4 linked regions of the Homo sapiens genome follow. The protein of the gene in region 4 purifies or fractionates together with the protein of the main gene of each other region. This does not show direct contact. Each region holds a gene or a part of one and is shown on either strand. Other genes may lie near its edges.

Evidence for each region.
Region 1: the proteins of PRMT2 (region 4) and ANTXR1 purify together in Homo sapiens (affinity purification with mass spectrometry; 4 studies listed by BioGRID and IntAct, with this or other methods). This does not show direct contact.
Region 2: the proteins of PRMT2 (region 4) and POM121 purify together in Homo sapiens (affinity purification with mass spectrometry; 4 studies listed by BioGRID and IntAct, with this or other methods). This does not show direct contact.
Region 3: the proteins of PRMT2 (region 4) and FHOD1 purify together in Homo sapiens (affinity purification with mass spectrometry; 4 studies listed by BioGRID and IntAct, with this or other methods). This does not show direct contact.

What each region holds. Positions count from the first base shown.
Region 1 is NC_000002.12:69,240,155-69,247,178, reverse strand, and holds part of ANTXR1 (anthrax toxin receptor 1 isoform 1 precursor), read right to left. Parts: intron 1,955-7,024; coding exon 1,694-1,954; 3' UTR 1-1,693. UniProt on the Homo sapiens protein: Plays a role in cell attachment and migration. Interacts with extracellular matrix proteins and with the actin cytoskeleton and thereby plays an important role in normal extracellular matrix (ECM) homeostasis.
Region 2 is NC_000007.14:72,935,083-72,942,106, forward strand, and holds part of POM121 (nuclear envelope pore membrane protein POM 121), read left to right. Parts: intron 1-3,507; coding exon 3,508-3,599; intron 3,600-4,253; coding exon 4,254-4,327; intron 4,328-4,764; coding exon 4,765-4,886; intron 4,887-5,331; coding exon 5,332-5,434; intron 5,435-5,734; coding exon 5,735-5,911; coding exon of another isoform or gene 5,912-5,929; intron 5,930-6,754; coding exon 6,755-7,024. UniProt on the Homo sapiens protein: Essential component of the nuclear pore complex (NPC). The repeat-containing domain may be involved in anchoring components of the pore complex to the pore membrane. When overexpressed in cells induces the formation of cytoplasmic annulate lamellae (AL).
Region 3 is NC_000016.10:67,230,482-67,237,505, forward strand, and holds part of FHOD1 (FH1/FH2 domain-containing protein 1), read right to left. Parts: coding exon 6,994-7,024; intron 6,902-6,993; coding exon 6,758-6,901; intron 6,634-6,757; coding exon 6,485-6,633; intron 6,253-6,484; coding exon 6,076-6,252; intron 5,954-6,075; coding exon of another isoform or gene 5,930-5,953; intron 5,589-5,929; coding exon of another isoform or gene 5,535-5,588; intron 3,992-5,534; coding exon 3,876-3,991; intron 3,787-3,875; coding exon 3,176-3,786; intron 1,714-3,175; coding exon 1,558-1,713; intron 1,358-1,557; coding exon of another isoform or gene 1,339-1,357; coding exon 1,156-1,338; exon of another isoform or gene 1,155-1,155; intron 1,069-1,154; coding exon 949-1,068; intron 869-948; coding exon 707-868; intron 311-706; coding exon 120-310; intron 26-119; coding exon 1-25. UniProt on the Homo sapiens protein: Required for the assembly of F-actin structures, such as stress fibers. Depends on the Rho-ROCK cascade for its activity. Contributes to the coordination of microtubules with actin fibers and plays a role in cell elongation.
Region 4 is NC_000021.9:46,638,658-46,645,681, forward strand, and holds part of PRMT2 (protein arginine N-methyltransferase 2), read left to right. Parts: intron 1-4,877; coding exon 4,878-4,982; intron 4,983-5,648; coding exon 5,649-5,831; intron 5,832-7,024. UniProt on the Homo sapiens protein: Arginine methyltransferase that methylates the guanidino nitrogens of arginyl residues in proteins such as STAT3, FBL, histone H4. Acts as a coactivator (with NCOA2) of the androgen receptor (AR)-mediated transactivation.

The sequences.
Region 1 (7,024 bases), on a different chromosome or scaffold from region 4:
TCTTTGGAATTGTAATTTGAGAAGGATTGTGAAGAAATCAGTGGGCTTAATAGGAAATAGTGCTGTGATTGATTAGCAATGTCTGCCATGGCCACAAAAATTGGTATTGATAAAATAAATGCATCCCAGGCCCTTATATCTCTGTTCTAAGTAAAGTGAGTGAATGAAGCTGGCTTGATGTATTTTTGAAGGATCTTTGGAGACCATAGCCCAAGCCACTAAATGTATATTTATTTTATATTCTGCCTTGTTCCAGAAAAGATCTGAGAATTTGGGTGGCTTGGGACAGGAATTTTAGGATTTGTGGAAAGCTAGAGAGAGAGATAATTTTGAATAGGCTGATGCAGGAGGTCCAAGACAATGATCTCTGTTTTTATCCCTGGGTGATGAAGCCCAGTGTTTAGCAAGTGATTATAGGGCTTATTGATTAAACAGATCCAGAAAGACCTGGATAAATGGGGTGAGTCCTAGGCATGGTGGAAATTTCAGGCAGAGCATTTCTGTGTTGCAGATCTGATGTATTTCCCCTTGGTTAACAGCTGAGGTTCTATGTCGAAAAGCCAAAGAGAAGTATATTTGTATACACACACATGCCTTATGGGGGTTAATCAAAGATCCTTATTATGTCAGGACCATTGTCTCTCAGCTCTGCCCAGAAGTCTGTGGTGCATGGCTTTACCAAGAAAAAAAACAAAAAACAAACAAACAAAAAAAACTAGTGATATTGTGTGATAGGTCCTAATGATGGTATTTTGGGAAGATCAACTTATGTTTATCTCTGGAAAACAGGATAAACTTCATACCTCAAGTGATTTAAACTGAAGCCAAACCTTGATTTTTAACATGATTCATTAACAGGTTGCTCTTCGACAATGCCATTGTCTGTTGATTTAGGGTCCATGTCTGGCCAAAGCCAGCCACCTCTAGCTGCTGATGGCCTGTGGGTTTTAGAAACTGGCTGATGCTCCCATGAATACGCCCCTGTCTATTGCACACAACTGATTTCACTTACACATCAACATAGCAACATACCTTTTCCATCAGTAAACACCTGCTCCCCTTCTCACTTGGAAACTGGAAGAATTTGCAAGGAAAAGATGCCATACATTTTTTATGTACCTGCAAATCCCAGAAGAACATCCTTCTGCATACCCGTCTGATGTTGAGTTTCTTACCACACCAGGGACCCCAGCATTTCCAAAGTTGTAGGCAAAGTTTTCCTCTTTCTTGGGTGGTGCACAGGGGTGAAGGTCCTTAGGCTCCTAGGCCAAGGGTCCAAAGTCCAGGGATGGAGGTGGAGTAGAGGCAGGAAGGCAGCATTTTAGAAACCCAGCAATGTATTTCTTATCCAACTCTGCATTTCACCTTCAGATAAATGATTTTCTTACTGGTCTCCATGAGACATAATCCTGTTGAGAGCATCTTGCAGTTTCACTGTCTCTGGAACCTTCTAGAGGTGATAGATGGCTGGCTATAAATCTGACTGTAGTTGCCTCATCATTTGTTTTCTGGCAATTTAAAATATCTGTTTCTTTCAGCTGATCATGATTGTTGGTATACTGGCATTGCCAACCAATTTTTAGAATGTGTGAAGGTCAGTGGGCTTTATCACCACTCCTCTTCTCTAACTGGAAAGACTTGTTCTAACATCTCCTGAAGTTTCTGAGAGAGCCCAGAGCAGGAACTTTGGGCTCTAGACAGAAGGCCTTGGAGGAGGGCGGGAGGGAGGAGGTGCCCTGTTGGGAGGTGGAGCCTGGGGAGGAGGGGGAAGGGTGGAAGGTGGGGACGGGATGGGAGGGGTAGGGGCGCTGGGGGGCGGGGGAGGGCAGTGGGGCGCAGGAGGTGGGGGAGTGTAGATGGGGGCAGGAGGCGGCGAGGAGGTGTGGTAGGCGTTGTTGAGTGGGTACTTGGCTGGCTGGTTGTTCTTGACCCTGGTGAAGTTGATGCAGCGCCCCTAGAAAAGAATTGGAGAGAAGGAAACGTGAGCGGACGGCCTCACATCAGGGCCTGTGGTGCTGTGGTGGGCGGCTTGCAAGCAATATGTGGAAAGCTGGCCCCTGTTGGTGACAACTCTCTAGTGGCACATAGTAGAACTTGAGGACAAGTGAGCTCCCCACTTCCTTTTCCTGGACTGTGTTGCAAAACTGTTAAAATTCATCTTTTCCTGGAGTCTAACTCTCTCAAGTGGGAGAAAGGGAATGAGACTGACCTTAACTGGGTGCTGTGTACAGAGGTCATTAAACTGAATCTCCTCAACAGCCCTGCTAACCGGGTATTATTAGCTGTTCCACTGCACAGATGAGGAAGCAGAGGTTCAGAAAAGCGGAGTTACTTTTTCAAGGCCACACAACTAGGAAGAGATGGGGTTGGTGATTCTAACCCAAAATAGACTCCAGAATTATTCTTCCTGCTGCTACTTTGCCTTCTGGAAGGGATCCTCATATTTCATAAACAAAAGTAATTTATTTTGATTAGTTCAGTTACATGCCTGGAAATGGCAGAAGGTTAACACCACGAGCTTCTCCTATATTGTAATTCAAGGATGTAGCTAGATTCTGTGATTGGAGTTGTCATGGAGGCCCTGATGCATTTACCTCGTCTGTGCCCCCTCAAACACTTGTTCCCGGTAATGAATGAAGGAGGCAGCTATCTCTACTGATGTGATCAATACAGCTTCCTCATCCACGCCTTGCCTTCTCCAAAGTGCTAGTAAATAATAAACAGTTTGTCCTGCCCTTGTTCTGGCTGTGGGAATCCCTCTTCTACACGCGGCTGCACCTGTGCAGGTAGCCTTAGTTGTTGTCACAGGAACTGACAACCTGTGTACCTTAAGAAATACAACCTGGGGACATTCTATTGCCAAGCAGGCATCTGCCCTGAATTCTGCTTTTCTCCTACCCTTCTTGGGTACTCAACTGAACAATGCAGAGAAGACCCTGGAACCCCTTAAAGCAGCCTCCTGAAAGTCAGCGTCCAAAGCCAGCCTTAAGTAGCCCTGTCTCCCCTATAGTATCTGCTCTGCTCTCCAGAGTCACAGGCATGCTTTCTCTGTCCCCCAGTAGATACCCACTAGTCTCATCTGGTACTCAGGAACTTCTGTGCAACACTCAGCTCTGCAACGGAGGGGAGACAGGGGTTCTCCTGCTCACCATGTTCCATGCTGGCGTGAGCTCTCTTCGCTTGGCCACTTGCCTGGGTGGGTACCCACCCCTCTGAGGGCTCCTGGCCTCCCTCACTTCCCATGCCTGTGGGGTATCTTATTGTTCTCTCTCTGGCATGTCTGGATGCCTACAGAATTGCTCCCCACAGCGGCTGAGGTGGGGTTGCTCCTCTCTGAGGCTGCCCTCTATGCTGGGCCTGGGGCTGGGGTGTGGAATTGTTCCTGGCCACATGCTCCAGGATGGAAGTTATCCTGTGGTGTCCAGCCTGAACGAGATATGTCCAGAGAGCACAGAGTTTCCCTTTCCAGGCCTTTTAGGGATGAGCTTGAATGAGAATGAAGAGGGTGAGGTGTGGAATTTGGGGAACAATTGCTGCTTAAATTAGCTCTAGGACAAGAGGAAAATGAGAGTGTGCTATTAGAGACTTGGCTCAGGATGGGCCACAGAAGGGACAAGCCACATGCTGAGCAAACCTTCCCTCCTTGTGCACAGCCCTGTGCATCCTTCAAGTCATAAATCATGTCCCTTTTCCCCCAAACATTTCCCCCACAGTGACTCCAGCCTCCACTTACCCTTTGCTTCCTTGAGTTCTCTAGTTACAGCCTACACCACACATTGCAGCCTGCATACTACAGTTGTTTCATCTGTAAATGCCTTGCCTCCCTGGCCAGACAAGAAACTTCTGGAAGGCTGCAGCCTTGTTTTGTGCTTTGCTGCTCCACAACTCACAGCCTCACAGGGTGTTCTGCATGGTACAGGGACTTTTGGTAAAAACGGAGTTGTTTGAGCCACTCAGGAAAAGTAGGGGGTGGGAAACCTTAGCAATAAAGTGAAAATTAATTCCTAGGACATAGCATTAGTCAGAGGGCATCTTGGTGAGGAAGGGCCAAACTTGATGGGACTGCAATTGGTTTAGGAGTTGCAATGCTATGTTTAGATGCCAGCACCCCTGTTTCTCTGAGCTTGCATTTCATGTGATTAAACCAGGTGCTAAGCCGGGGAGGCTGTGACTGGGGTTCCACCCACTGCAGAAAGAATTTACCCCCTCCTCGCTGCACTGCCCAGAGCTCCCGGGTTTATGTCCAGCCTTTCAGGCATGATGCCGATTTTGTAACCCAGTACTGTACATTCCCGGCTGTTCAAGCTGCCCTCTTTTATAGCTTTATAAATCTAAGCCTTGGTTACAGTTTATTTATGATTCTGGATAAAGCTTTCCTTTAAGATGTGAGGGCCCTAATGATTACCATCTGTGATGAATTCCCATGACGACAATTTAGAGCTGGGATTTACTGTGCTATCTGTTCTGCCCTTCGTTCCTAGACATGCAAAGTCAGACAGAGAGGCTCAAGAGATTCATGTCCTTGAAAGATGAAGGGAAACCCTCATCCTGGGGAAGGAGCTGCTGGTGCCTGGGGTTGAGTGCTCATCTGGCTTCAGATGTCTTCTAGAGCTGGCCACCAGGCTGGCCGAGAGGGGAGGCTAATTAATTAATGAATCCGGAAGCTCATGTACTTATTCTCTTCAATTGAAATAAGTCACTCTACTGTTTTTACCAGAGGCTGTTTTGTCCAGAGACAAAATCGGGAGCTCCCAGCCTTCTTCTGCCAATATCTCTGTTCATAATCCATGTTAGGATTCCCAGGGGTTTTCAAAAAAGTTGAAAGCATCCACAGACTAAAAGATGGTCTCTCACATCTGTCCCCTGAAGATGGGATGAAAGAGGGCAGTGGGGGCTGTGGGGGAGTGAGGTGGGGAGGAAGACCTGAGGTCAGCACTTCCAGCTGCCGCCGTGGTGTCTTGGCCAGAGCAGCAGAGGGATGGAGATGGGGTGGGGTAAAATGGTGATGGTGGAGGCAAAGAGTCCTCCTTCCTCTGGTCAGTAACACCCTAGGGGTACGCCCATGGGTCACCTAATCCAGAGCATTGTGCTGTGGTTCATTATAGACCCTCCCCTCACTCCCCACCACCTGGTCCTTTAGAGCTGAGCACAAAAGCCCAGAGCTCTCATCGAGCAGCCAGAGGGGAGGGGCAAGCTCAGAGCTTCTGCGTGGCCCCCACTGTGGGACACCCCACAGTGTGATGTGAAGTGGGGGTAATCATACCGCCTGTCACTTACAGGTATTAGGAGGACTCCCTTAATCAGTGTTATGAAGGGCTTGGAACAGTGCCTGGCGCATTGTGTTTAGTAGTCTAATGCTGTCTCTCTGCAGGTGGGGATGCGCAGACACAATCAGACCCTGTCTGTGGTGGAAAGGCCAGTTGGAGGTGGTATCAGGTGTTCCAACTCCTAGTTTAGTGTCTTCTGAGTGAGCTGCAGACTAGAGCTTCTATACTCCACATCTGGCTTCTATAATACAACTGGTAAATAGGAAAAAATGTAGCAAAATTGTAGGGAAAAACAAAGCAGCCCCTAGAGCCTGCACTCTTATGTTTGTTCTCTCCTCCTGTTGCCACCAAGTCCTGTAACTTATTTCTTATAGGACCTCCCACAGTGCACTGCACACAATTTGACTGATGTTGAATTTATCTTCCTGAAAAAAGGTGCAGACTCGGCATCAATAAATCCCTGGGGTAATATACAGTAAGACCCACAGTCTTTGTAAGAGGGGTGTGGTTACAATAAGTTCTTAAAACCTGGAGTCAGAGGTGCCAGCATAAACACGGTAACATTTAGACCATATAATTGGCCTAAAGATCAGTTTACACAACATCGTTTTTTGCTTGCAAGAGGATAATAGAAAGGCCAGATGTTCTCACCGTCATGTAGGCCAGCAAATCTGCACCAGTGTTTGGTTAAAAGGTTGCTAGGACGATTGGAACTCTCGCTTCATAACACTGGTCTTTGTGACCCAGTTTTATTTTCCACAGTATTGGTTTTGGGTGGTTTGATTCCGATCCAAGATTTGGCTTTGACCTCAGTTTACCTCAGCATCCTCATTTACAGGAATGAATGCCAATTATTTTCACACATTAGCAAAAATTTCTCAGATTAAATTCTAAGAAGAAAATGCAACAATATCTCCAGCTAAATGAAGGCTTAGGATGCCAGCTGGCCTTCCTCCTAGGCTTGAAAGTGCCATTTTGATTTGGGTGTATCTAATGGTGGTGGGAGGACTATTTGAAACGTCCAGGTACATTAGTGTCTTTACTTATCATCAAAACTCTGTCAGTTATGTATCAGTATTTTCATTGTACAGAAAAAAAACTAAAGTCTCACACCTATTTAAATAACTTGCTCGAGACTACACAGCCAGTAAGTGGCAGAGTGGGATTAAAACCCAGCTCTGTTTGCCTCAGGAACTCATCCTCTTTATACTGTATTCCTGAATATAGACTAAAAGTGCAAATGATTTCTTGAAAGACTTGTAGATAGCATCACACAGTGTAGCACTTGACCACAATCCAGCAGCTCTTGACATAGTCAAACGATTGTTCCCGAACCTAAGTCTGGTCAATTCACTCTCCAGCTCAAAATTCTTCAGTGATTCCCCATCACCTTTAAAATAAAAGCCAAACACCTCCACTGGCATACACAGCCCTTTGGGATCTGGTGCGTGCTTATGGCTTTCAATTGATGTCTTACTCTTTTCTTGCAAGATGTCCAGCTTGGTCCACCCTATGCCCTCCACAAATATTTGTTCAATGAGGAATATAATTTGCCATGTGGAACCCTACTCTAAATGTTTCCCATTAGAAACATTGCTCCTTAACTGGTTGGTGAGCACCTCTGAGGCACCCTCAAGGGCTTCTCCTGTGGAGCCTAGTGTTGCTCTAAAGAGCCCAACATTCAAGTTGGCACTCAACAAGTACTGCTCACACACCGGAGCTCCGAGGTGCAGCAAGATGTCTTAGAAAGCTCTGAT
Region 2 (7,024 bases), on a different chromosome or scaffold from region 4:
TTTCATCTACTGATTACTTTGGATGGAATTAACATTGTTACAATATTGACCTTGTTTACTTCTAATCTATGAACATGGAATGTCGTTATTTATTTATTTAACTTTTGAGACAAGGGGTCTTGCTCTGTGGCCCAGGCTGGAGTGCAGTGACATGATCATAGCTCACTACTGCCTTGAACTCCCAGGCTCAAGCGATTCTCCTGCCTCAGCCTCTTGAGTAGCTGGGACCACAGGCATGCATCACCACACCTAGCTAATTTTTAAAAACTTATAATAGAGACACAGTCTCACTATGTTGCCTAGGCTGGTCTCAAACTCCTGAGCTCAAGCAATCTTCCCACCTTGGCCTCCCTGAGTGCTGGGATTGTAGGCGTGAGCCACCATGTCCTGCCTCCTTCATTTATTTACATCATCTCTATTTCTTCTCTGTAGAGGTTTTACTTCTTTTTTATTAGATTTACAATCTCGGCTCACTGCAGCCTCCACCTGCTGGGTTCAAGTGATTCTCCAGCCTCAGACTTCCGAGTAGCTGAGATTACAGGCACGTGCCACCACACCTGGCGAATTTTTGTAGTTTTAGTAGAGACAGGGTTTCACCTTGTTGGCCAGGCTGATCTCAAACTCCTGACCTCAGGTGATCCACCTGCCTCTGCCTCCCAAAGTGCTGAGATTACAGGCGTGAGCCACGGCGCCTGGCCCTAGGTATATGCTATTCTAAATAGTGCCTTCATATATGCTATTCTAAATAGTGCCTTCAAAATGTGATTGGCTGTGCTGGTGTGTAGAAATACAACTGATTTTGTATTCAGAAAGTTTGCTAAATCTGTATGTTCTTTAGGATTTTAGTACATACACTCAGGTCTATGATAATGAGTTTTTCCTTTCCTCTGCAATCTTATTCTGTTTATGTCTTGCTGCACTTGGCTAGGACTTTAAGTTGAATAGACATGATAATAAACATCCTTGTCTTGTTAGATCTGAAATGAGTGTGTATGTACAGTCAATGAAGTAGAGGAGTAATACTTTTTTCCCCTAATTGTTAAACCAGTTGTTCAGTTGTCTTCCAGTCCTAGCTAATCATTACAGTCTCCTTTGGCATTTCTGTTTTTTCTTTATTTTTTCTTGGTAGAGATGAGACTTCACTATGTTACCTAGGCTGGTCTCAAAACTCTTGGGCTCAAGTGATCCTCCCACCTTGGCCTCCCAAAGTGTTGGGATTACAGGCATGCACCACCACACCTGGCTAATTTTTGTATTCCTTTTTTTTTTTGAGACGGAGTCTTGCTCTGTCTCCCAGCCATTCTCCTGCCTCAGACTCCCAAGTAGCTGGGACTACAGGCACCTGCCACCACACCCGGCTAATTTTTTGTATTTTTAGTAGAGACGGGGTTTCACCATGTTAGCCAGGATGGTCTCAATCTCCTGACCTCGTGATCCGCCCACCTTGGCCTCCCAAAGTGGTGGGATTACAGGCGTCAGCCACCGTGCCCAGCTTGTTTTTGTATTTCTAGAAGAGATGAGGTTTCACCATGTTGGCCATGCTGGTCTGGAATTCCTGACCTCAGGTGATCCTCCTGCCTCAGCCTCCTGAAGTGCTAGGATTACAGGTGTGAGCCACCTCGTCTGGCCCCTTTGGCATTTCTGACCCTTGCTTGCTCAGTGATGTGTATCCCTCAGTGTCTGGAGCACATTGTGAAGAAAAATGCAAGGTTTATGGTTTTTATTGTTTTAATTTTATTACTTTAACTACAGGTAAGGTCTTGCTATGTTGCCCAGGCTGGTCCGAAACTCCTGGGCTCAAGCAGTTCTCCTGCCTCAGTTCTGAAAGTGCTAGGATTACAGGTGTGAGCCACCGCACTCGGCCATCTATGTGCTTTTAAAGTTCCACAGGTGGCTAGGTGTGGTGGCTCACGCCTGTAATCCCAGCACTTTTGGAGGCCAAGGCAGGCAGATCACGAGGTCAAGAGATCAAGACCATCCTGGCCAACATGGTGAAACCCTGTCTCTACTAAAGATACAAAAATTAGCTGGGTGTGGTGGCATGTTCCTGTAGTCCCAGCTACTCGGGAGGCTGAGGCAGGAGAATCGCTTGAACCAGGGAGGCGGAGGTTGCAGTGAGCTGAGATCGCGCCACTGCACTCCAGCCTGGTAACAGAGCAAGGCTCCGTCTCAAAAAAAAAAAAAGTTCCACAGGTGACTGAGCCGTCCTTTGAGAACCAGTGAGGTAGTGTCAGGGATCTGAAGTGATTGAAAATGCCGCTTATATATTCAATCCTTGGATCCCTTTGATGAATTTTTGTATTCTGCTCTTTTATATGCCTGTAATCCCATGTTTTTTAAACCATTGTGCTCTGGCCTTTCTTGCTGTTTGAGCGTAACTTCAACTGTTATTGCCGTGAGCAGTCTTCTCAAGCTCCTCCTGGGCCCGGCTTCCTGATGGTGGCCTCACTGAACTGTTCTGCTGCTTACCACTTGTCTGAAGCTTCCTCTTTTCCCTTTTTGAACTCTTATTAAGCATTGCTGGCTTCCTGTTTGTACTTATATGATGTAGCTGGTACTGGGTAAGAAATCACTAGCAGCTTTTCAAGTAGGAAAGACGGTCTGAGGTGACAGTTTAGTGGCTTTGTAATTAGGCTCAGCACTTACGAGACTATTTGCAGTGTCCGCTCTGTGCCATCTACTTTGCTGCTGGTCTGTGGAGGAAGCAGAGATGAAAACACCGTCTTTGCTGTCAAGAACTCACCTGGTGGAAGAGGCAGATGTATGGATAATCATCACATGATGATAAATGCCATCGTTGTTGCAAAAGTCATAAACGTTACGACAGCATATTTTTAAAATGAAGTTAGTAAATTAAAATAGAAAATTTAATAGAAGCAAGACTAAATTAGTTTACTGGGTTATCTTCTTTAATTTACTTCTATCCTCTCCGTAGACAGTCTGGCACAGGTTTGAATGTGTCCTGGCTCTTCATTACTGAGGCTAACGTTCCACCTAATATATGCAAAAGTGTGTCCATCCCTTCTACCTTTATTCGCATTCCATTACTTTTATAGACTTTTCTTCTTTTGCTTTCATAATTAATACTGGCAGTTGACTTTCTTTTCAGGGGTCTTTCTTCACAAACAAATTTTTTTCATTTTCTTTTCTTTTTTTTTTTTTGAGACAGGGTCTCACTCTGTCACCCAGGCTGGAGTGCAGTGGGGCAATCTCAGCTCACTGCAGCATCCTGAGTAGTTGGGACCACAGATGCAAACCACCACACCCAACTGATTTTTCAGTTTTTTTGTAGAGACAGGGGTCTCGCTATGTTACCCAGGCTGGGCTCAAATTCCTGGGCTCAAGCGATCCTCCCACCTTGGCCTCCCAGCATGCTGGGATTACAGGCATGACTAACCATTTAACCATAAAGAATGTTTTTTTAGTCACTTGAAAAGAGACTTTGTCGTGTTGAGGGTCAGATGCTAAGTTATCAGCAGGCTCAGTCATGTCCCTCTTGATTTTTAGCTCTGGAAGAGAAATGGCCCCAGTTCATCACCCTTCTCTAGCCCAGCCTCCTCCCGCTCCCAGACACCGGAGAGGCCAGCAAAGAAAATAAGGTACTTGGCATTCTCCTGCAGTTTTCATTTGCTGCGTGGACAGGCGGGGGTGAGGAAAGGTGGGAAACGAACCTGGCTCTTAGGCTTTGTGCTGCTGTGACTTGGAGAATCAAAGAAACTTAAGTCCCTGAGAGGTACAATGCAGTACCCACCCGAAGTGCTGTCATCCCTACAGTCTTGGATACTGACTCCAGTGGCCTCTGGCTGTCGCCTCCCACTCCAGCATGAGGGATCGGGTGCAAGCACAGAGGCCATGCAGAGTGGAGAGCAGAGAGAGTCAAGTCAGCGGGCAGTCGCCTTCAGGTTCTTGACTCGAGCTGACCCCCTAGGTGCTTGCAGTTGGCTGGAATGCCACTCCCTCAGGGATCACATCTGTGTCTAGAACTCCCAGGGACTTGATAGGTTGTAAGTAAGGTTTGAAGATTATTGTTTTGTGCTTGTTTTAAGACAAAAGCTGTCTTCATGGCCTCTGTGAACAGCCTCCCTTCATTCTGTTGGAATTTCCTGTTGACTTTTTTTATCCTGGCATACTGAGATCTTAAATGATGGTTGTTTTAGACATTGGCCACTTGGTAGTTAGGAGGGTGTGAGAAATTATTTAATACTTCAGCCAAGAAGCCTTTCTAGACTAAATTGTTCCTTTTTTCCTGACAGAGAAGAGGAGCTGTGTCATCATTCCAGTTCTTCAACTCCATTGGCAGCAGACAGGGAGTCCCAGGGAGAAAAGGGTAGGTTGCTGAGCCAGGAGGAGGGGCTGCTGTTGGTGGTGGAGGTGTTTGTGGAGGATGTAGAGATTAATACCTATTGAAAAAAGGTCTTGAGCATTGCTATGTCTAAGGCATGTTAGATACAAAGAGAGAGATTTCCTCTCCTTCAGAAGTTTATAGTCTGATGAGGGAGAAAGGCTACAGACAGGGACTAACGATTGGATAGAGGTAAGCTCAGTTTGAGTCACCTGTGGGTGATCCCAGTAATTACTGCACAGTAAGCGGTTTGTGTGCGCGCCTTAATCTTGCAAACACCATCCAAGCAACCAAACCATAGAAGATTGAATCTTTTCAGAGATACCCATTGAAAACTCAATGTGAAATGCGAAGTGGGTAGACACAACCATCCATTTCTGGAAGAGGGAAGGAAGCAAACGAGTCTTGATTTCTTTCTTTAGCTGCAGATACAACCCCAAGGAAGAAACAAAACTCGAATTCTCAGTCTACACCTGGCAGCTCTGGGCAGCGTAAGCGGAAAGTTCAGCTGCTGCCTTCTCGGCGAGGGGAACAGCTGACCTTGGTATGGTCTTGTCCATCTACTCCTGCCCTCCCCGGCTTAGCTCTCCTAAGTATTAGGAACGCTAAGGACAAGTTTCTTCTGATTTTTTTTCTAATTTATTTTTGTTTTTGTTTTTTGAGACAACATCCCTCTGTCACCCAGGCTGGAGTGCAGTGGCTCGATTTTGGCTAACCGTAACCTCTGCCTCCTGAGTTCAAGCAATTCTCCTGCCTCAGCCTCCCAAGTAGCTGGGATTACAGGTGCTTGCTACCACGCCTGGTTGATTTTTTGTGTTTTTAGTAGAGATGGGGTTTCACCATGTTGGCCAGGCCGGCCTCAAACTCCTGACCTCAAGTGATCCAGCTGGCTTGGCCTCCCAAAGTGCTGAGATTACCGGTGTGAGCCACCATGCCTAGCCTTCCCGTTTTTTCTGATTGGCCTGACTTCTTCTTTTTCACTTTGGTAGCCTCCACCTCCCCAGCTTGGCTATTCGATCACTGCCGAGGACCTAGACTTAGAGAAGAAGGCTTCATTACAGTGGTTCAACCAGGCCTTGGAGGACAAGAGCGGTAAGGAGCACAGATTGTTGCACACTGGAGAGGTTTCAGGTGTCTGTTTTCTTTGGTTTTATTTTGGTGTTTGAAAAAATGGGTTTCTCTGGGAAAATCCCAAGTAGGGTTCCATGTTTTCTTGTGGTCTTTCTCACCTGAGATATCCGTGTTGGTCTTCACGGGAACTGGACAGCAGGGACCACTGCAATTGAGGGCAGGCATTCCTCCATGAGCTGTGCTGAGAGCCTGCTCTCCGACAGGCATGTGGAAAGAAGTCCCAGACAAGCCAGGACTGCTTCACCTTTCTTTCTTTCTTAGATGCTGCCTCGAACTCTGTCACTGAGACCCCACCTATCACTCAGCCTTCATTTACCTTTACCCTGCCTGCTGCTGCACCTGCCTCCCCACCCACCTCCCTCCTGGCCCCAAGCACCAACCCACTGTTAGAGAGCTTGAAGAAGATGCAGACTCCCCCGAGCCTGCCACCCTGCCCAGGTGAGCTGGAGTGGGGCCGTGGATCCAGCCTTCTGAGCAGCATCCCCGGCTTGAGTTGGAATAAGGGCGTCGTGCCTGTCAGTCGCTGGAGATTGCTCTGCAGGCCGAACGCACCCTGGCTCAGCACACCGGAGCGGGCCCACGTTTAACAGCGCCAGAGCCCGCATCAGGAAGTGTTAGAGAAGGGGTGCTGCGACGCTCAGGATCTGAAGCCTGGCTCGTAGCTGCCCTGAGCCTCGCCTTCCTCATCTGTCAGATGAGAATGATCTTCCCTGTGCGGCACCTCTGAAGTGTGAATGTGGTGGCGTGGTCAGGATATCCTTGCCTGTCAGAACCACTGGTCCAGAACAGCACTGCTTCCTTTCCCTCCAGCACTTCGAGGGCTGCTGGTGTTCCCGGCCCAGGCCTTCACGGCACTGCGCGCGCACACCTCTTTATCAGACGGTAACCTGGGGTTCGTACGCACCCTCCCTGCTCAAGGGCAGAGACTTCCCCATTCATAGTTGTGTGCTCTTAGCGCCTGGCAGGTGAGCTTAGTAGGCAAATAAAGTATATCTAGATTCATACGTGAACTTCAGAGTTCAGACAATTGGACTGTCTTAGTCTCTACACATTAGGCCCCCATTTAGGCCCCATTTTATCCCCTTCTGTCTGATGATCTGTGAGGTAGAAATAACACTTCCTTGATTTACTGTACAGGCCTGTAGTGTAGACTTAGCTGAGTTTATTGACTGACTCTTGGATCCCAGGCTCTGTGGTAGGCGTGGGGAGGACACTGAAATACTGAATACCATCATCTTTGAAGTGTTTATTCCAATTTCACATTTTCTATTCTTCTTCCAGAATCTGCTGGAGCAGCAACCACTGAGGCCCTCTCACCTCCAAAGACACCCAGCCTCCTACCCCCGCTGGGTTTATCACAGTCAGGGCCGCCAGGGCTGCTCCCCAGCCCCTCCTTTGACTCCAAACCCCCGACCACTTTGCTGGGGCTGATCCCTGCTCCATCCATGGTACCAGCCACTGACACCAAGGCACCTCCAACCCTTCAGGCAGAGACGGCTACCAAACCCCAAGCCACATCTGCCCCGTCCCCCGCCCCCAAGCAAAGCTTCC
Region 3 (7,024 bases), on a different chromosome or scaffold from region 4:
CAGGTAGAGCAGGAAGGCATGGAACCTAGGCAGGTCAGAGTAGGGAGGGACAGTAAGTCCTGCTTATTGTCTGAGGGAGGGTGGTGGCCGTCCTGCCTCTCTTGGGTCCATGCCCCTACCTATTGCAGACACGGCGGTGCACTATCCTTAGCATGGCAACACGGCGGGCACACTGGTCCAGGAAGTGGGTGAGGCGGGCACGCAGGGCTGGGGCCAGCTCATGCTTGGCCAAGCTCCGCAGGCTCTCCTCGGCTGCCCGGCTCCGGCGCTCCAGCTGCCCCAGGTTCTCAGTCAGCTGTTCAAAGTCCACCTGAGAAAGCAAGGGGGTGCACATACTGTCCCCCCACACCCTGTAGACAAGACATGGCCCGAGGCTGCTTCTGGGCCAGAGTGGCCAGCTTGGGCCCTAAGGACACAGACATCCAAATCTCATAGACTAGTGCAAGAGACACAAGTCCATCTGATGTGAATGGGGAGCAGAAGGTTTACTGGGGGAAGTGGCAGTTAAACAGACCCAAAGACTGAGTAGGTGTGGCCAGGCCAATAGAGGAAAGAGCATTTCTGGCAGAGGGCATAGCTCACACCCAGGTGGCTGGAGCAAGCCCTGGCACAGCAGCCCAAATGGGGAGAAGGGGGAGGAGCCAGGCCCAGGAAGCAGCGCTCCTCATGCCTTGTCCGGCCTTGGTTGATTCTGGCAGGTGCTAACCTTGGCACAGCGGGTCAGGGCAGGGATTTCTGAATAGAGGTCAGAGGACTCAGGCCGGGTCTGGAGCACTAGGGAGCAGAGATGGTGTAGCAGTGACTGTCGACGCACCGTGTCCTTCACCTCTGACACCTTCTCCAGGTAGCTCAGCTCAAAGCCGCTGCTCTGAAAGGACCCTTTCTGAGCCTGGGCCTGGTTGGCTCCAGAACCCTGACTCCCCCTAGTCCCCATGTACTCTCACTCACCTGGGAGCCATTGAGGAAGTTGCCCACCGCTAGGAGGGTAGCCAGGATGCAGCGGAAGGTGGCATTCTGTACCAGCTGTTCCATACCCACTTTCAGGTCAAACAGTGGCTCAGCAATTTCCTGGTATGGGAGACCAGGGACTCTCAGACTACATGGTCATGATGCTTACCTGTCCCTACTGACTGTCCCACTCCAAGACCCAGGTACCCGCTCCATGCTGTCATAGTCCAGCTTGAAGGCCCAGAGTTGTAGACGAGCAGCGAGGCCGCCAATGGAGGCAAGAGTCATCAGGAAGTTCTCGGCTGGGCCCAGGGGTATGTCAGGGTTGGCCAGCTGGGCTTCCTCAATCTTCTGCCGCTCTTCCTCCGTGGGCATCATGGTCAGTAGCTTCTGAGGATGTAGCCAGAGCCTGACATGGCCCCCTCAATGCAGGCCTGAGGCCTGAGGCATTGGTCTTGACCCCTCAGTCATCTAGGGGAGGCCCCAGTGTCTGGGGACTGCCCTGCAGAAATGCCAAGCCCATGCCCACCACCAGAGGGACAGGAAATGCCCACCTACCAAAGGAGAAGGCCAGACCTCCCCCCAACACCCATAGCTGGGTGACCTCACCTCAATGCCATCCTTGCTGACAGCAAACTCATCAAAGTTGAGCAGAGCAGCCTTAATGACATGCACAGGTGGCAGTGTGGTTAGGCCGATGTTGATGGCGTTGCTGCGCTTGGGGTCCAGCACTGTGGTCATTGTCCGGCGGCCCTCTCCAGCTTTCTGCATGGTTGGGGGAAGGGCAGTGTAAGACTGAGGAAGGGGGCCTGACGCGGTGGCTCACGCCTGTAATCCCAGCACTTTGGGAGGCCAAGGCGGGTGGACCACGAGGTCAGGAGATCGAGACCATCCTGGCTAACATGGTGAAACCCCATCTCTACTAAAAATACAAAAAAAATTAGCTGGGCGTGGTGGCGGGCACCTGTAGTCCCAGCTACTCGGGAGGCTGAGGCAGGAGAATGGCGTGAACCCGGGAGGCGGAGCTTGCAGTGAGCTGAGATCACACCATTGCACTACATCCTGGGTGACTGAGCAAGACTCTGTCTCAAAAAAAAAAAAAAAAAAAAAAAGACTGAGGAAGGGACTAGCTGGGACAGCAACCTCAGAGGGCACTCCAAGGCCCTCCTCTAGATTGCCAAATGATCCCACAACTGACAAACTGGCAACCTGGAATGTGTAAGTCATGGGGATGAGCTTAGATTCTTTTGAGACAGGGCCTGGCTCTACCATCTAGGCTGGAGTGCAGTGGTGCCATCATCGCCCACTGCAGCTTATCTTCTGGGATTTTCCTGCCTCAGCCTCCCAAGTAGCTGGGATTACAGGCGTGTACCACCATACCCAACTATTTTTTTTTTTAACATTTTTTTTTCCGCCTCCCAGGTTCAAGCAATTCTTTTGCCTCAGCCTCCCAAGTAGCTGGTATTGCAGGCATGAGCCACCACGCCCAGCTCATTTTCATATTTTTAGTAGAGACGGGGTTTCACCATGTTGGCCAGGCTGGTCTCAAACTCCTGGCCTCAAGTAATCTGCCTGCCTTGGCCTCCCAAAGTGCTGGGATTACAGGGGTGAGCCACCATGCCCGGCTAATTTTTTTTTTAACATTTATTTATTTTTATTTATTTAGTTATTTTTGAGACGAAGTCTTGCTCTTGTCCCCCAGGCTGGAGTGCAATGGTGCGATCTCGACTCACTGCAACCTCTACCTCCCGGGTTCAAGTGATTCTCCTGCCTCAGCCTCCCGAGTAGCTGGGATTACAGGTGCCCGCCACCACGCTTGGCTAATTTTGTGTTTTTAGTAGAGACGGGGTTTTGCTAATTTGACCAGGCTGGTCTCGAACTCCTGACCTCAAATGATCCACCTGCCTCGGCCTCCCAAGGTCCTGGGATTACAGGCATGAGCCACTACACCCAGACCAACTTTTAGTAGAGATAATGTCTCACTATGTTGCACAGGCTGGTCTCAAACTCTTGGATTACAGGTGTGAGCCACCATGCCCGGCCACATTTAGATTCTAGTTGGGGCACTGCTGATCCCTTGTTAGGAGACCTTGGACAATTTCCTACTCCTTTCTTTGCCTTGGTTTCCCCATGTGGGAAGTGAGTGACTAGCTCCAACAGGTCAGATCCTTAAGCTCTGATTCCCTCCTGCCTCCCTTGGGGCTACCTTGCAGATGAGTGGATTTACCTTGGAGGGCAGCACCTCTTTGGCACGAGACTCAAAGAGGTGTTCCAGTCGGGCCGTGTCCACTGAGACAGGGTCCAGTGAAGCCCAGAGGGTGGCGCAGGGCCCAAAGCGGCTTGCAGAGACTCCATGGCCCCCAGCCAGCTTCAGCTCACGCCAGAAAAGTTTTACTGTCTTCCTCTTAGTGGGGAGGGCTGAGCTGTCAGGCACTGAATGGGGAAGAGGGGCAGCCAGAGGTAGAGGTGGAGGTGGTGGGAAGGGGCCTTTGATGGGTGGGGGAGGTGGAAGTGGGGGAGGGGGGGGTACTCCCGAGAGCAGGGGCAGTGGGGGTGAGGGAGCTGGGATGTCTTTCCCAGCCTCCACAGACTCTACATTCAGCATGTCCTGGTCTTCATCCTCCCCTAGATCTGAAAAGTCCAGGTCCCCAATAGAGAGCCTGGGTGCACGGGTAGGGAGCTCCCAGATGGGCTCAGCCTTGGGGCTTGCTGGTATCAGTGGCTCCTTGGGCTCTGGTGCAAGGCTTCGCTGGGCCCGGAGCAGGACACAGGGGGCAGGGCTCTGGGGTGTTCTGGCTGCAGGGGCTGTCTCTGGGGAGTCCCAGAGTTGCCGGGCATCTAAAGAAAGGGAAGGAGCTGTCAGTGCCATGCCCCCTGTGGGGCAACAAAGCAACAGGCAGGCTCTGCCTGCTCACCCACCTACTCACCTGGGTGTCCACCCGCCTCATTGGGCATGGCCCCGGCAAGTGTCTCTGCCCGGCCCTGGGCCAGCGCAACCTGCTTCTCTGTTTCTGCTGCCGCCACATTCTCCAGGAACCGGGCTCTGAGGGAAGGTGCTTGTCACTGACAGCGTCTGACACACCCCAGCCCAGGTGTACATGCCTTGCTGAGCCCCTGGACACCACCCCCAATTGCAGGCACGCACAGACACACAGGGAACAGTCCATGCGCTGAGCAGACCAGAACCACACCCCCCCCAAGGCCAGCCCCTCTTCAGTCCTCCACATCTGGGGAGGATTACTACCAACCCAGCATTCCCAGGTGAAAACACAGGGAGAGGATCTACTTAACATCTAACTTGCAACCTCGTTCATGTTCACTGTCCTGGTTTTTTTTTGGTTGGTTTTTTTTTTAGAGACAGGGTCTCACTCTGTCAGTCACCCAGGCTGGAGTACAGTGGTGTGATCATAGCTCACTGCAGCCTCACTCTCCTGGGCTTGACCCTCAGCCTCCCAAGTAGCTGGGACTACAGACATGTGCCACCACGTCCAGCTGATTTTTTAATTTTTTTGAGGAGACAGGGTCTCACTGTGTTGTTCAGGCTGGCCTTGAATTCCTGGCCTCAAGCAGTCCTCCCACCTCAGCCTCCTGAAGTGCTGAGATTACAGGTGTGAATGATGCACCCAGCCAAATTTTAAAAAATTTCTTTGTAGAGATGAGGTCTTACTGTGTTGCCCAGGCTGGTGTCTTGAGTCTAGACAAGGACTCTTAGAGCAGGGGAAGGGGATAGCTGTCCCAATGGGCATATCAGGCTGTCCCTCCCTTGGCATGTCTGGTAGCTTCTGGGAGCCTATGCCCAGGAAAGGGCCTGGTAAACAGGCCAGGTGCGGTGGCTCACGCTTGTAATCCCAGCACTTTGGGAGGCAGAGGTGGGTGGATTACTTGAAGTCAGGAGTTCGAGACCAGCCTGGCCAACATGGTGAAACCCTGTCTCTACTAAAAATACAAAAATTACCCAGGTATCCTGGTGCAGGCCTATAATCCCAGCTACTTGGGAGGCTGAGGCAGGAGAATTGCTTGAACCTGGGAGGCAGAGGTTGCAGTGTGCTGAGATCACACCACTGCACTCCAGCCTTGGAGACCGAGCAAGACTCTGTCTCAAAAAAAAAAAAAACAAAAAAAAAACGGATGTGGTAAACAGTGGACCCTCAGTTTATGCTGAAATAATGGGTGCAATCCAGTGTTTCTTTTCTGGCCCCTCCAGCCTCTGTCAGCTCTCAGTCCCTGCCTTTCCCTCAGCCTTAGGTTACCCCTCCACCCCCACACCACACACCACACAGCACCCTAGGTCCCCTCCCTGCTCGCTTCTGAGCTGAAGACTTGGCAGAATGAGCCCCAGGTTGGGTGTCCACATCCCCATCTCTGGCTGCTAAGGTGTTGCTATTGAAGCACAGGGACCACTGTGACCCCAGTGAATTGGTTCCCAGTGCTTAGCCTTTGGGTTACCGAGGAGGCATATGTCTGGGAGAGGATAGGCCTGAGTCCCCCAGCTTTGGTTGCATCAGGCACGTGAAACCCCTGCTGGGGGAAGCAATGCTGAAGCCCTGAGCACATGGCAGGCCTGGCAGGCCGGCCTCTGTACTTACTCCAGCCTGGCCTGCCCAGGAGGGGACTGGGGGACGGGTGGGCTCTCAGGGGCCCTGGGTAGGGGGGATGAGAGGAAGAGATGGTAACTGTGGTGTCAGCTCCATGGTTGCTCATACCCACACAGAGCTAGGCAGTGATATTGGGGTTCCTTCCCAGCCGCAGTGGGAAGTGGGGGAAGGTATGACACGAGGAAACTGGAAGTGGAGGGGAGAGACTGACGTGGAGCAGGACAGGGTGCTGGAAGAGACAGAGGCAGCAGAACAAGGGAGTGACAGATAGTGGGCGGGAGACATGACAAGAGGCAAAGACAGGCAGAACGTCGGAGGAGACAAAGGAAACCACAGGAGGAGGAGATCCAGTCAGAGCCGAACCCCACCCGCTGGCAGTCACTTACCAAACGGAAGCAGTTTGGTGAAGTCTGGAAAGAGAGAGAGAGAAAGCACGCGTTTGGGCAGAGGAGGCTGAGTGCCCATGGAGGGGCGCAAAGCGGAGGGACAATGGGAGAGAGGACTCCAGGGTGGCCTCTGTCTCCCTACTTACTTGTAGATGCTCCTCTCGCTGGAGGTGTCAGCTGAGGGTGCCACAGAGATGGTAGGAAAAAGGTTCACTGAAGCTTGGAGACCGGAGGGAGGGCCCACAGGGCTGGAGGCGGGGCCTGTCAGCAGGGCGGGGCCGGTGGAAGAGGTGGGGCCTACCGGTGAGGCGGGGCCTGTGGGGCTGAAAGCAGGGGCTGTCAGTGGGGCGGGGCCTGAGAAGCTGGAGGCGGGGCCTGTCAGTGGGGTGGGGCCTGCGGGGCGGGAGGTGGGGCATGTCGGTAGGGCAGGCCCAGTGGAGGAGGTGGGGGCTGTCTGTGGGGCGGGGCCTGAGGGGGTTGGGGTCAGGGCCTGTCAGCTCACTGGGCCATGCCTAGTAGATCCACCCTTTCCCATCTACAGATGCTCGTACTTACCCAGGTTCCGGGGCACGCGCGGGGCAGCCCCCGCCTTCCAGAGAACGGCGGCTCCTCTTGCCCTCCTCAGAAGAAGGCTTTCGTCGTTCCCGCCGCCCACCAGCGCCTGGGGCTTCTTCGATGTCTCCATCCTCCAATTTCAGGGCGTTCTAGCAGAGGCGGACCAGGATGTAAGAAAGTGGTTAACGTGTATGCAGGTGGGGTGGGGCGCTGGGGACTGCGCTTCTCTCTTCCCTCTTTCCAATCCGCCTCAGAGCGTAAGGCCCGGCCCACCTCGTAGAGCACAAGCTGCGTGCGCAGGTCGACGTCAGTGCCCGCAGTGCCCAGGTGGCGCTGGACCAGCGCTTCCATGCCCTGCTGCTCCAGTGCATCCGTCACATCGTAGAAGGAGTCCTGGTCCGGGAGCGCCGCCAGCGTCTGGAGGGCGGGGATAAGAAGGCAAGGCTGAGGTTGGTGGGGAGGTCAGGAGCCTGAGCATCCCAGAGCTGGCACCCAGTCCTTGGCCACACCTTGTTGATGAGGGTGACCGTGTACACCAAC
Region 4 (7,024 bases):
AAATGGTATTTTGTTATTTCAATTTTGCTGACTGGTCATGGTAGTATTTCAGTAATACTTGTGTTCATCCTGTTAATACCACCCTCCATTATAGAAGAGATGTCTTATAATGGTAATTTGTGTTTTATCTCTTTTTTTCACACTTGATCAATCTTTTCTTAGGGTTTTATCAATTTTATTTTTATAAAGAACCAATTTTATCTGTGTTGATTTCTCTGTTTTTCTATTTCATTGATTTCTGCTTTTGTCTTTATTTCATTCTGTTGTATTTGGGTTAATTTTTATAACATCTGAGAGGGAAGCTTAGATAATTGATTTTAAACCTTTCTTTAATAGTCTTTAAAGCTATGACTTTCCTCTAATCACTGCTGTAGCTGTACCTCACATATTTAAATGCATTTTCATTCTTCAAAATATTTTCTAATATATTCAATGGAAATTAGAAGTTTTCTGGGCTATTTGAAAGTATGTTGACCAATTTCTAAACATATTGGAAATTTTACTTTTTCTTATTTAATTTTGCTTTGATTACATTGGTTAGAGAACATAACATCCTCTATAATTTCAGTCTTTTGAAATTTATTCAGGCTTGCTTTATGTTCTAATCATATGGAATATGTTGGTGAGTGTTCCATGAGTACTTGCAAAGACTATGTATTCTGCAGTTGTTGAGTGTAGCATTCTATAAATGTCATGAAGATCAAATGTGTTATTAGTATTGTTGAAATCTCTATATCTTTTCTGATTTTTTTTGCCATCTTCTATCAGTTACTAAAAATTCTCCACTATGATTGTAGATATATCTATTTTTCCTTTTGGTTCTATCACTTTTTGCTTTGTATATTTTGAGTCCCTGTTATTGGGTGTATATATTTAGTATAGGTTTTGTTTTCTAGATTAATTGACCTTATTTTTTATAAAACATCTGTCTTTTTACCTGTTAATAAATACTTCTTTTCTTGCGTGTACCTTTTTTTTAATGCTAATATAGCTGTACCAGCTTTTTTTTTTTATCATTAGTGCTTACATAAAGTGTGTGTGTGTGTGTGTTTGTGTGTGTGTGTGTGTGTATTTTTTTTCCCTCAACTTAAGTCCTTATATTTAAAGCGTTTTTCTCGTAAAGAGCTAGTTGGGTCTAGCTCTTAGGTCTGTTTTTTTGTTTCTCTGTTAAACACAATTTCTGCCTCTTAATTGGAGTATTTAGTCTATTAACACTTCATGTTATGACGAATGTGATGAAGTGTAACATTTTGCTGTTTGTTTTATGTTTGTCACATTTCTTTTTCCTGCATGTCTCCATTCCTGCCCTCTTGTGGATAAATAAAGGATTTTCTATAATTCCATATTACCTCCTTTAATAGCTTGTTAGCTGTATCTTTTTATATTGTTTTAGTGTTTTCCCAAGAAATTGCAGTATGCATCCTAATTCAATTTCAGTCTTTTTTTTAACTACTTCATAAGGTAAAGATCTTAGAAGTTAGTTTCATTTACCAGCGTCCATATTTTTGTACTGTTGATGTAACATTTTAATTTTACATATGTTGTAAACGCCACAATAAATTATCATTATTGCTTTACGCTATCGAGTCTTTTTTTATGAAGTAAAATAAATAGTCTTTTTTATGTTTCCCCACATATTATTTGCCTTTTTTGAGGTCTTTCCCTTTTTCTTGCATTCTGTGTTTTCATGTAGGATCATTTCCCTTCAACCTGACAACTTTATGTTTATATTTACTAGTGTGAGTCTGCTGTGTCAAACTATGAAATGTGTTTTGCCTACATTTTTTTTTTTTTTTTTTTTTGAGACGGAGTCTCGCTCTGTCGCCCAGGCTGGAGTGCAGTGATGCGATCTCGGCTCACTGCAAGCTCCGCCTCCTGGGTTCACACCATTCTCCTGCCTCAGCCTCCCGAGTAGCTGGGACTACAGGTGACCACCACCACGCCCGGCTAATTTTTTGTATTTTTAGTAGAGACGGGGTTTCACCATCTTGGCCAGGCTGGTCTCAAACTTCTGATCTCAGGTGATCTGCCCACCTTGGCCTTGATGGTTTTTTTTTTTTAATTTTGGAAAAATCTCCACCATTATCTCTTCATTTATTTTTTTCTGCCTCATCTTCTGTCTTCTTTTTTGGGGTCTCCATGTAAACATAAGTTAGAATTTTTGCTGCTGTTTGACATGTCTCATGCTCTATTCTTATTTTTTTTTTCATTTTGTGCTTCAGTTTGGAAAATTTCTGTTGACCTGACTCTTGAGGCGCTGATCATAAACAAGATAACTGGGAAAACAATATGTTTGTAAAACAATTTCTTGAGATGTGAAATAGTATCTATATTGTACCAAGAGTAGTCCCAGCTACTTGAGAGGCTGAGGTAGGAGGATTGCTTTAGCTTGGGAGGTGGAGGTTGCCATGAGCCAGGATCATGCCACTGCACTCTAGCCTGGGTGACAGAGGGTGACCTCATCTCAAAAAAAAAAAAAAAAAGCGTATTCTTCAACCCTGGCATTCTATCCTGCAGAAATAAAATGTCATCACATAAGCTTGTCTGTGCACAGACTTCTTTTATTGCAGCATCGGTTATGGTGGTAGAAAACTGGATACCAAGACAAAGTCTATCAAAGGGGGATGGCTGAAGAATCAAGCGGAATTCCTGCTATGGAATATCGTATAGCCATTGAAGGTAGTAAATCAGGGTTCTAACAGTTGGAGAGTTTTTCCAGAAGGTATTGTGTAAGAAAAGCAAAGTGCAGGTCAGGCGTGGTGGCCCACGCCTGTGATGCCAGCACTTTGGGAAGCTCAGGTGGGCAGATCACTTGAAGTGGGGAGTTCGAGACCAGCCTGGCCAACATGATGAAACCCCATCCATTTCTACCAAAAATGCAAAAATTAGCCGGGCGTAGTGACACACGCCTGTAGTCCCAGCCTCTCGGGAGGCTGAGGCATGCGAATTGCTTGAACTGGGGAGGTGGAGGTTGCAGTGAGCCGAGATTGTGCCACTGCACTCCAGCCTAGGCGACAGAGCGAGACTCCATCCTAAAAAAAAAGCCAAACAAAGAAACAGCCTGTGTGTGTGTGTGTGTGTGTGTGTGTGTATACGTGTACACAGGGCTTTGTGTGTGACATGGGCATGGTGGAGGTGTGGAAGGCCGCACACCGGGGGGTTAGTAAGGGTTGCCTGGGCTGGGTGGATCGGGGATGGGGTGGAGAGCAAGCAGAGGGCAGTGCTGCCTTAGAGTGAGTCATGCTCCTGGCATAGGGAAAAGCACGAAGGGTACAAATAGACAGTAAGGTAAAAAAAGATGCCAGCAAGTATTTTAAAAACGCCTAACCACACAAAGAGAGGGAAATGGAAGTAACAACAGTGATTTTTACCCATGAAATTGACAGAGACTAAAGTGATTGGTATCTATTGAGTGAGAGTGTGGGAAGATTGGTGGTTCCCTCTCAGCAAGCGGTCCAGGGAACACCTTTCTGGAGAGCACTGGGTGGTAAAACCAAAAGCCACATAGTCTCAGTCCATCAGGTTCACATTCAGAGACTTACCCTAAGAAGATTAAGGTACATACAGAATGATTTATGTTGAAAGAAGTTCATCTTAACATGATTTAGAATAGTAAAAACTGAAAAGTCTAAATGTACAAGACTAGGAAACTGGATAGGTAAGTCCTGATAATTCATAGACTGGATATTAAATAGTGTTAGAAGTATATTTAATAAGAAAAATGTTCAGAGTTTATAAAGTGAAAACCATAGGCCACAGGCTTATTGTGTGAACCCAGTGAATGCTTTGTACTTATGTTACGTGTCCACTTTTTTAAAAGTCTGAAAGTATAAACACCAATGTGCTGTCTGTTATTATCTGTGATCAGTGAGCAAAATTACAGGAGGTTTTAATTTTCTTCTGTGTACTTGGTGTTTTCACACATTTTCTAAAGTAAACACGAATTACTTTTATGTTTAGGAAAATGTGTTTAAAATGTATGTATTGAGACAAGGTTGATTCATTGAACTGGAGTGTGTGATCTGAGGTTCTGCCCCCTGCAGTGATGTCTTCCAGGCAAGCTTATTCTTATATAAAGTGAACGGCCAGGCATGGTGGCTCATGCCTGTAGTCCTAGCACTTTGGGAGGATGAGGCAGGTGGATTGCCTGAGCTGAGGATTTCGAGGCCAACCTGGGCAACATGGTGAAACCCCATCTCTACTAAAAATACAAAAAATTAGCTGGGTGTAGTGGTGCACACCTGTTGTCCCAGCTACTTGGGAGGCTGAGGCATCAGAATCACTTGAACCTGGGAGGCGGCAGAGGTTGCCCTGAGCCGAGATCATGCCATTGCCCTCCAGCCTGGGCAACAGAGCAAGACTCTGTCTCAAAAAAAAAAAAAAAAAAAAAATGGAGGGGTTGGGGGAGGCTCCAAGGACCTGTGTGGGTCCAAGCTGGGCTCTGCTGCCTCGTGGAGGTTTGTGCCATGCCATCAGCTCTTTCCACAGGCCCCTGGCTGTGCCTGCCTGGGGCGCTGGGCCCCTGGCTCTGTCCTCACACTGGTTTCTCTTCATGGGGTTGATGATCACCTTCAGGAAGCAAAGCTGATGAAGGACAAGGGCTCCTCACCAAATAGACACTAGTGGTGCCTGTTTCTGACTTCTTGCTTTGATGTTCTCTTTTAGGGTCCAGATAATTTTTTTTTTTAGAAAAGAAATGTAGAGTGAAGGTGACAGCCTTTGATTATAGTAGTAAAGATGATCCAAATAGTTTGTATAATAAATACTTGGACACATGAATCTGTATTTGAAATTTGAAACCATCCTAATAATATAGCCAAAAAAAAAAAAAAAAAGCTCCAGCGTCCTCTCCTCACGCTTTCCTTGGCTTTGAGCAGGGAGAAGAGCCTGCTGAGTGCAGTGAGGCCGGTCTCCTGCAGGAGGGAGTACAGCCAGAGGAGTTTGTGGCCATCGCGGACTACGCTGCCACCGATGAGACCCAGGTAGCCACACGTGGTGGTTAATGCTTTATGGCTTTCAGCATGTTCAGTGTCAAAAGGAGATAAATTTTGCAGACGTCACACCAAAGTTAAATGAAGAGGTATTCAGATGCGTAGGGCCACACAAGACCTGTGTGTGAAGCTCACAGCCCAGCCAGTTCTGCCTCAAGCATGATGTAAAGATACGAGGCATGGAGTGGGGACCCTCAGCCAGGGGCAGAAGCACCTGTTCTGGTTTCTACTTGGAATGTAGAACCCACCCAGTTAATGAAAAGTAAGGCTACCAAATATATCAAGCTATATCTGCTTGGACATAGCTTTGTTTACTTTGTGACAGGAATTTCTTAGAGTCAGCCTCCAGTAACTCAGTTGGCATAGTTGAGTTACAATGAAGAGGCTGTTGAGAAATTCTCTCCTAAGCCATTTGAAAATGTTTACTCCTTCTTTTAAAAAATATCTGTTAAGCTGTGCCCTCCTTTCAGGTAGATGTTCCAGAGGCATCGCTAAGTCATGGTGTCACTTGCAAACATTCTCAGTTGCTGTCATTACCCACTGACTCCTGTTTGAAATCTCTGTGATTTTGTCACCATTGATGGGATTTATCACTGAGCCACATTTGAAATACCAATGACTGGTTTTCTTATTGAATTTTAACTTTTTTTTTTCCAGCTCAGTTTTTTGAGAGGAGAAAAAATTCTTATCCTGAGACAAACCACTGCAGATTGGTGGTGGGGTGAGCGTGCGGGCTGCTGTGGGTACATTCCGGCAAACCATGTGGGGAAGCACGTGGATGAGTACGACCCCGAGGACACGTGGCAGGATGAAGAGTACTTCGGCAGCTATGGAACTCTGGTATTGCTTTCTAAATTCCCTGTTCAGCTGGCCAGGCGGTGGGTTCTCTCTAGCTTTAGTTCTACTGCAACGTTCAGAGCAGGCCCATAGTCTTACAGGCCAGAGCTCCTCTGTTGTAGCCACTCAGCTCTGACATGGTTGTGTGGAAGCCACTGTGGATGACACACAAAGTGTGCACTGTTGTGTTCCAATAAAACTTTATTTATGGATCTTGAAATTTGAATTTATACTGTACAGTTTTCATGTGTCACAAAGTATTTTCTTTTGATTTAAAAAAATCATTTAAAAATGTAAAACCCACTGTTAGTTTGGAGGCCATCCAAAAACAGGTGGTGGGCTAGATTTGGCCCATGGCTTAGTTTGCCGACCCCTGGCTTAGAGATATGATTTGAGCAATGAGATTATGTGCGTGCTCCCTCAGTATTTAAAAAAAAAGCAGTAAATTTTACTTTAAAAATGAAATTAGGCTGAGTGTGGTGGCTGACACCTGTAATCCCTACACTTTGGGAGGCCAAGGCAAGAGGACACTTGGCTTGAGACCAAGTGTTCAAGACCAGCCTGACAACATAGTGAGAAAAAATAAAAAATATAATTCGTCTCTACAAAAAAAAAATTAAAAAAAAATATAATTAGCTGGGCATGGTGGTGCACGCCTGTAGTCCCAGCTACTCGAGAGGCTGAAGTGGGAGGATTGCTCAAGCCTTGGAGGCCAAGGCTGCAGTGAGCCATGATGGCGCTGTTGCACTTCAGCCTGGGCTACAGAGCGAGAGCCTGTCTCAAAAAAAAAAAAAATAGAAAAAATTCTATAAATCTATGAATAATACTACTTAGGTCAGGTGTGGTGGCTCATGCCTGTAATCACAGGACTTTGGGAAGCTGAGGTCAGAGCATCACTTGAAGCCAGGAGTTCAAGTCTGTGGTGAGCTATGATTGCGCTACTGCACTCCAGCCTGGGTGATTGAACCAGACTCTGTCCCTAAAAAAATAATAAAAGCCCAGCTTCTAAATAGCTTACCGAAATTTTTTCCCCACCATGGAGAAATGCCTATAACCCGATGGTCCAGGCAACAATCTCTGGTTACATTTTAAAACTAGATGAAAACAGTTACTTGCAGGATGAATGTTATAAAAATGATGTTAGTTGAAAGAAGGAATAGGGCAAAGAATCTATAACGTTTGACTCAATTATATAA